2 linked regions of the Homo sapiens genome follow. The protein of the gene in region 1 interacts with the protein of each later gene in a pairwise test. Each region holds a gene or a part of one and is shown in the gene's direction. Other genes may lie near its edges.

Region 1 (3,821 bases):
CATAATTGAATTCCAAATAGAATTAGCAAGTGTTAAGGCATATGAAAATGAAGGACTCCTATAATTTCAGTGCTTTAGGTAGCTGAGGCCGTAGGATCACTTGAGGCCAAAAGTTCAAGACCTCACCTTTACCCCCCCCCCAAAAAAAAAAAAAAAAAGCCCAGTGTGGTGGCATGTGTCTGCAGTCCCAGCTACTTGGGAGACTGTGGCGGGAGGATCGCTTCAGCCCAGGAGTTTGAGAGTGCAGTGAGCTGCAGTCGTGCCACTGCTGTACAGCCTGCATCGCAGAGCAAGACTTTACTAAAAATTTAAAAGAAAAAATACTGATTTAGGATAATCATTTTACCTTTCATAGGACAGGGAAAGAACGTTAATCTTGTTTAATATAGGGCGAAAACACATTTGAAGAACATAGAGCAGTATTAATTGAATTTTTGGGGAAGAAAAATCTCATGAAGTAATTTTACCCATATATGTATTTTTAAATATTGAATGTTGTAAATAAACTTTCTTAGTTTTTACTCTATGGAAATAATTTTTTTTTTTTAACAGAAAGTCAAAAAAAGAAGCAACAAGATGATTCTGATGAATATGATGATGACGACTCTGCAGCCTCAACTTCATTTCAGCCACAGCCTGTTCAACCTCAGCAAGGTTATATTCCTCCAATGGCACAGCCAGGACTGCCACCAGTACCAGGAGCACCAGGAATGCCTCCAGGTAGCACATAGGATTGCTTAAAATCTAACATTTTTAGGACATTATTGATATTGTATCGAAGTATTACTTTCTTCCCTCTAACTCTTTAATATTTGTTATTATTTTGATTGAAATTCTTGCTTGTAGGCATACCTCCATTAATGCCAGGTGTTCCTCCTCTGATGCCAGGAATGCCACCAGTTATGCCAGGCATGCCACCTGGGTAAGAAAATTCTTTTAATTGCCCTGTAGGCTTGTGCCTAGTAATGATCTTTTTCAATTTGGATGTTATATGAATGAAATGTTACTTTCCATTTTTTGCTTCTAGAAGGTATGGGCTCTATATATCTTGTCTAATAAAGGGATCAACCAGTAAATTTAAGGAATATAAATTTGCCTCTGAGTAATAGATTTTTGGGTTTTAGGGTATATGTAAGCAACCATCTACTTCAATTGCATTTACTGTGATTAAAGTAGTTGGTTATTTATAGATTTGCGTTTCTGAGATTCAGAATTATCTGTGACACTTTGTAGTTGTGACAAGAAGCAGAGAAACTCTGTAAATGATTTATTTGTCAAAGCATCAAAACTAAAATGAATATGAGGTGCTTGTGCCCATCACTTTTACTTAAATATTGTTGGATGTGAGAGGTATACAATACACTTTCCCACTGTATTTTGAAAATCACAGTTAGATTTTGATTTTGTCATACATTTTCACAGATTGCATCATCAGAGAAAATACACCCAGTCATTTTGCGGTGAAAACATGTAAGCATCTCATTCATAATGTAATTCAGGAGGTATAATCATACTGTCATTTTTTTATGTGTGTGTTTAATGGTATCTATTCAGTTGACTTCAGAAATTTTCTAACCTTCCTCACTAAAACTTGCAAGCTAATTAACACAGGTCTCTTAAAGAAGGAAAATAAAACATCTTTTAGGAAACGGTAATAGACCCATATAAACATACTTCAAATGTGCAGTGATTTTCTCCAAACTATTGAAAGTAATGGGACCTGTTAATAAGGGTTAGTATTTAAGAAAGACTATATTCTATGAAATTACATGCTTTATTATTATAGGATGTAATGGAATTTTCTAATCTATTAATAGAAGTTAATCTTCTGATAAAAATTTTAAATCAAGAACTGAATTTACCCACAAAAATTTAAAAAATTTGAAAGAAAATTGACCAATTTATCATTTTTTAAGTGAATTGGACACTGATATTTGAAGGTGAGCTCTTTTAGGGGAAAAAATAAGTGGGTTGTGTTTTTAAGTCATGGTTTAGTGGTAGGTAGTTATTGTAAATAGGCCATCTGGTTTTACTTTTGAGTGTCTTTAATTTTGGTGGTAGTATTTCCTTTCTCTAAAAAAAAAAAGTGTGTGTGTGTGTGTGTGTGTGTGTATATGTATGTATTTGACACAGGGTCTCTTACTCTGTCGCCCAGACTACAGTGCAGTGGCGCAGTCACAGCTTACTGCAGCCTTGACCTCCTGGGCTCAAGTGATCCTCCCACCTCAGCCCTCTGAGTATCTGGGACTACAGGCGCACACTACTGCACCCAGCTAATGTTTAAAATTTTTGCTTTTTTAAAAAGTTATGGTCTCACTTTTTGCCCAGCCTGGTTTGAACTCCTGAGTTCAAGCAGTCCTTGAGCCTTGGCCTCTCAAAACTTCTGGGATTATAGGCATGAGCTGCTGCACCTAGCCAAATAAAAAATCTCATTTCACAGGGTACATTCATTCAATCTTTTTCTTTTCAAAATCCAACACAACTCTGAAATAGAGATTTCTTCTTTTTCTTTAATACTCTGTGGATATTTTCCAAGTGGAAAAAGTGGTGAATTTGCTTTCCCATTACACATATTTTAGATGAGGCCTCTTGTACATATTGAGAGTATATTTGTTCTCAAATGACTTTAAATGTTTTGTCAACATTTTTTTTTTATTGGTAAACCAAAGAGTTTGCTGGGTTTTAGACAATTTATTTTGATAGGATTGTTACAGTGTGTTGTGTGTTCTTTCAGCTTTGATTCATTTCAGTATTAGAGGTCAGATTCAAGTCTTCTATCTAGTGTTGTTTCAGGCTTTAGCCAGAATATTTTTTAATGGTTTATGCTGTTCATTAACTTACTGTTTCTTGAAATTTGCTTTCTAATAGAATGATGCCAATGGGTGGAATGATGCCACCTGGACCAGGAATACCACCTCTGATGCCTGGAATGCCACCAGGTATATGTTAGATAATTTCATTTTAATATGATGTACAGGCTTTATTTCTAAGTTTTTTTAGACGTCTGTGGGCATTAGTATAATGAAATTTAAAAATTTTTGAAAGTTGCAAGTTCCTGTGAGAAGTGTTATATGGACCCTTTTTTAAAAAATGTATTTTGGTAGATATCTCGGCTCACTGCAACCTCTGCCTCACAGGTTCAGGCGATTCTTCTGCCTCAGCCTCCTGAGTAGCTGGGATTACAGGCGCCTGCTACCACACCTGGCTAATTTTTGTGTATTTAGTAGAGACGGGGTTTTACCATGTTGACCAGGTTGGTCTTGAACTTCTGACCTCAGGTGATCCACCCACCTTGGCCTCCCAAAGTGCTGGGATTACAGGTGTGAGCCACCACGCCTGGCTGGCCCTTTCTTGAAGTTTGAAATAGATGATAGGTTTCAAAGCAGCCAAAGTGAGTCACGGCCTATGTGCTGAATCTCACATACTTAGAGCGCTTGTATTTGTTAGGAATGTTTTAGACAAGTAATAGAGAAATCCAACAAACTTTTTTTTTTTTTTTTTTTTTTTTTTTTGAGATGGAATCTCGCTCTGTCACCCAGGCTGGAGCATGATCTCGGCTCACTGCAACCTCTGCTTCCGGGGTTCAAGTGATTCTCCTGCCTCAGCCTCCCGAGTAGCTGGGAGTACAGGCGCCCACTACCACGCCTGGCTCATTTTTGTATTTTTAGTAGAGATGGGGTTTCGCCATGTCGGCCAGCTGGTCTCAAACTCCTGACCTCAGGTTATCCGCCTGCCTTGGCCTCCCGAAGTGCTGGGATTACAGGCGTGAGCCACTGTGCCCAGCCCCAACAAACTGTATTAAACGGTGTAGGCATTCATTG
Region 2 (3,821 bases), on another chromosome or scaffold:
CCTTTGTTTTTGCGGCCCTCCTCACTTGTATTTTTTTAGTAGTCGTGTTTTATTTTATAGTACTTTTTAACTTTTATTTTGAAATAATTTCAGACTTCCAGAATAATGTCCAAATAGTACATTGGATTCTAATTGTGAACATTTCATTCATTTACATTTACTTTTTTACTTTCTGTGTACACAGATGTACATTTTTCTTTCTGTACAATCCCTGAAAGTTGCAGGGATTGTATCACTTTATTTCTCCAAAGCAAGGACTTTGTCTTATATAACCACTGTATAATTACTAAAGAAGCCAGCTCCATACTGGTGCTGTCCAGTGCATAGCCACCAGTCACATGATAAGCACTTCAAATGTGGCCAGTGTAGCTCAAAAACTGAATGCTTAATTTTATTTAATTAAAGTTAAGTAAGCATGAGTTGGGGATCTTGGTTAATAGAATATTAAGTAGTATTACCAACTGAATTGTTTTAAGCTTTTTTTTTTTTCTGTTTTCACAGCCAGTGCATCTGTATCCACTTGAAATCCAATACTGAAAAGTTTTATATGCTTTGTCTCATGACGCGAAAGCTCTTTGCTTTAGCCAAAGGAGAGTGCATGGAGGACAATCCTGATAGTTTGGTGAACCAGGAAGTCCTCACACCGGGTCAGCTCTTCCTTATGTTCCTGAAGGTAAATGCATGCTATGTCCACCCTTGGCCAGTGGTACCACTTGTGGAATGGCGTGACTTTGTCCAGCAGCACTGTTTTCTGCATGTTTATAGTTTCTAGTTTTGGCATTTTGTGTGGTCTCTTTTTTGTTTGTTCATTTAGCAGTAAGGGGATCAGAAATCCTGGCTTACACCAGGTTTGGAAATTTGCTTAATATTTTTATGTAAAGATCACATCAAATCTTGGTCACAGTGTTAATGATAAAAAGCAAATGGCCTGTATTTATACATATGGTTGATCCTCATTATTTGTAGATTCTGTATTTGTGAATTCACTCACTGGCTAAAATTTATTTGTAACCCTAATGTCAGTGCTCAGTGCTTTCATGATTATTCACATACATGAGCAGAGCAGTGAAGAATTTGGGTCTCCTGAGGCAAATGTTACAGCTGAGGCGGGGCAGGGCGATGCTCTGCTTTCCGGTTTCAGCTCATACTATAAAGAGGGTCCTTTTTGAGGTGCATTTGGTGCTATGTTTTTCACATTGTCGTGCTTCTTATTGGTGACTTTTTTGTTTTTTTTTGAGACAGGGTCTCAGCCTCAACCTCCCAGGCTCAAGCAATCCTCCCACCTCAGCCTCCTGAGCAGCTGGGACTATAGACATTCACCACCACACCCGGCTAATTTTTAATTTTTTTTGTAGAAACAGGGTCCCACTATGTTGTACAGGCTGGTCTCAAACTCCTGGGCTCATGTGATCCTCCTGTTTCAGCCTCCCAAAGTGATAGGATTGGAGACATGAGCCACTGAGCCTGGCCAGTTTTTGCTGTTTATAATGGTCCCCAAGCATAGCACTGAAGCGCTGTCTAGTGTTCAGTGTTAATGAATTAACAAGGTATGTTAAATAAGGTGCCTTTCAACAAAAGCTGACATTAAACAAGATTGTATATTGATCCGTTGACCAGAATGTTATGACCAGAGACTTGCAGGAACCCAGCCCTGTATTTTTCCCCAGGAGTAGTGGTTTTATATGTGTTAATTCAGTGTTCATTAGAACATAGCTACTGTGAGTAGTGAAATTTGACTGTAGATGTATATAGAGAGAAAGTTGGCATGGCACAAAAATGATTTCATAAGAATATTGATTCAGTGGCATTTTATATTTTGCATCTTATCCTCAAAAAGATGTAATCTAAGAGTTAATATATTTTTAGTAGAGGTGGGGTTTCACCATTTCAGCCAGGCTGGTCTCGAACTCCTGACCTCAGGTGATCCACCTGCCTCAGCCTCCCAAAGTGCTGGGATTACAGGTGTGAGCCACTGTGCCTGGCTTCTAATTTATTTTATTTTATTTTGAGACAGAGTCTTGCTCTGTCTCCCAGGCTGGAGTGCAGTGCTACGATCTCAGCTCACTGCAACCTCCACCTCCCGGGTTCAAACAATTCTCCTGCCTCAGCCTCCCGGGTATCTAGGATTACAGGCGCGTGCCACCATGCCCGGCGAATTTTTTTATTTTTAGTAGAGACGGGATTTCACCATGTTGGCCAGGCTGGTCTCGAACTCCTGACCTCAAGTGAGCCACCCACCTTGGCCTCCCAAAGTGCTAGGATTACAGGCGTGAGCTACCACACCCGGCCTTCTAATTTCTTATCTAGGTAGTAATTCTTATTTACATTCTTCCCGAAAGGTAATAATCTTTGTTTCTGTTTGCTCTGTCCATAAAATTAGATTGAAAAATTTCAGCAGCCTACAATTTTCCTGACAAAAATTGAAAGCAGGCAGCGTAAGTTTTCTCTTATTAATTTAATGTTATTAAATTAACCTTTCAAGTAAAGGTTAATTTACATTTCCCATCTACTTAAAGTGAAGCATGGTGGGCTCATTGTATTCCACACTTATAAATGTGTCTTTATTCCACATCAATTCCTAATTAGGAAAAAAAAGAAAAGAAAAAGAAATGAGACCAGGAGTACAGTGGCTCATGCCTGTAATCCCAGCACTTTGGGAGGCTGAGGCAGAAGGGTAACTTGAGCCCAAGGAGTTTGAGACCAGCCTGGACAGCACAGAGAGATCGCTACAGAAATAATAAAAACTATTAGCAGTGGCTGGGTGTGGTGGCTCACGCCTATAATCCCAGCACTTTGAGATGCCAAGGTGGGTGGATCTTCTGATCTCAGGAGTTCAAGACTAGCCTGGGCAACATTGCAAAACCCTGTCTCTACAAAAAATATAAAAATTAGCTGGGCATGCTGGCATGCTGCAGCAATTCCAGCTACTCAGGAGGCTGAGGTAGGAGAGTTGCATGAGCCTGGGAGACGGAGGTTACAGTGAGTTGAGATCACGCCACTGCACTCCAGCCTGGGCGACAGAGCAAGACCCTGTCTCCAAAAAAAACCTGTTAGCTGGGCATGGTGGTACATGACTGTGGTCCCAGCCACTTGGGAGGCTGAGGTGGGATCCCTGAGCCCAGGAGGTCAAGGCTGCAATAAGGGGTGATTTTGCCACTGCACTCTAGCCTGGGCAAAAGAGCAAGACCTTATCTCAAAAAGAAAAAAGAAAAAAACACCTGGTGCGGTGGCTCACACCTGTAATCCCAGCACTTTGGGAGGCCGGGGTGGGAGGATCACTTGAGCCCAGGAGTTTGAGATCAATCTGGGCAAACAGCCCAGAGACAAAACTTCGTCTCTACAAATAATTTTAAAAAAATTTAGCCAGGCCTGGTGGGCCACACCTGTGGTCCCAGCTACTCAGCAGGCTGAGGTAAGAGGATTGCCTGAGCCCAGGCGGCGGAGGATGCAGTGTGCTGTGATCACGCCAGTGCACTCCAGCCTAAGTGACAGAGCAAGACCCTGTCTCAACAGAAAAAAGAAATGAGTCTTCTGTAGCAAGGCGTTACTAAGGTGACCTGTGTCAGCAACAAGAGAAACCAAGGGAAAATTGGGGCTTTTTCAGAGAATTCATTGCCGAGTATCTGATTTCCTTACCAGCTACGTTAAAGCTTTTAAACCTTTGAGTTTGGAGCATAAAAACAATCTTCAGAAGATACATAACCATGACATAAGATGAATTATAGACTGTTAAAAATTCACATTGTATTTACATTGAAATAAGCAATATAAAATTGAAAAATAGCAACCATATTTTCTGTATTATTGTAGATTAACCATAA

The links.
Region 2: the proteins of ZNF207 (region 1) and POLR1B interact in a two-hybrid assay, tested with the Homo sapiens proteins (one large-scale study listed by BioGRID and IntAct).

What each region holds. Positions count from the first base shown.
Region 1 is NC_000017.11:32,360,046-32,363,866, forward strand, and holds part of ZNF207 (BUB3-interacting and GLEBS motif-containing protein ZNF207), read left to right. Parts: intron 1-552; coding exon 553-720; intron 721-846; coding exon 847-922; intron 923-1,422; coding exon 1,423-1,470; intron 1,471-2,868; coding exon 2,869-2,939; intron 2,940-3,821. UniProt on the Homo sapiens protein: Kinetochore- and microtubule-binding protein that plays a key role in spindle assembly. ZNF207/BuGZ is mainly composed of disordered low-complexity regions and undergoes phase transition or coacervation to form temperature-dependent liquid droplets.
Region 2 is NC_000002.12:112,552,144-112,555,964, forward strand, and holds part of POLR1B (DNA-directed RNA polymerase I subunit RPA2), read left to right. Parts: intron 1-501; coding exon 502-673; intron 674-1,395; exon of another isoform or gene 1,396-1,547; intron 1,548-2,380; exon of another isoform or gene 2,381-2,436; intron 2,437-3,821. UniProt on the Homo sapiens protein: Catalytic core component of RNA polymerase I (Pol I), a DNA-dependent RNA polymerase which synthesizes ribosomal RNA precursors using the four ribonucleoside triphosphates as substrates.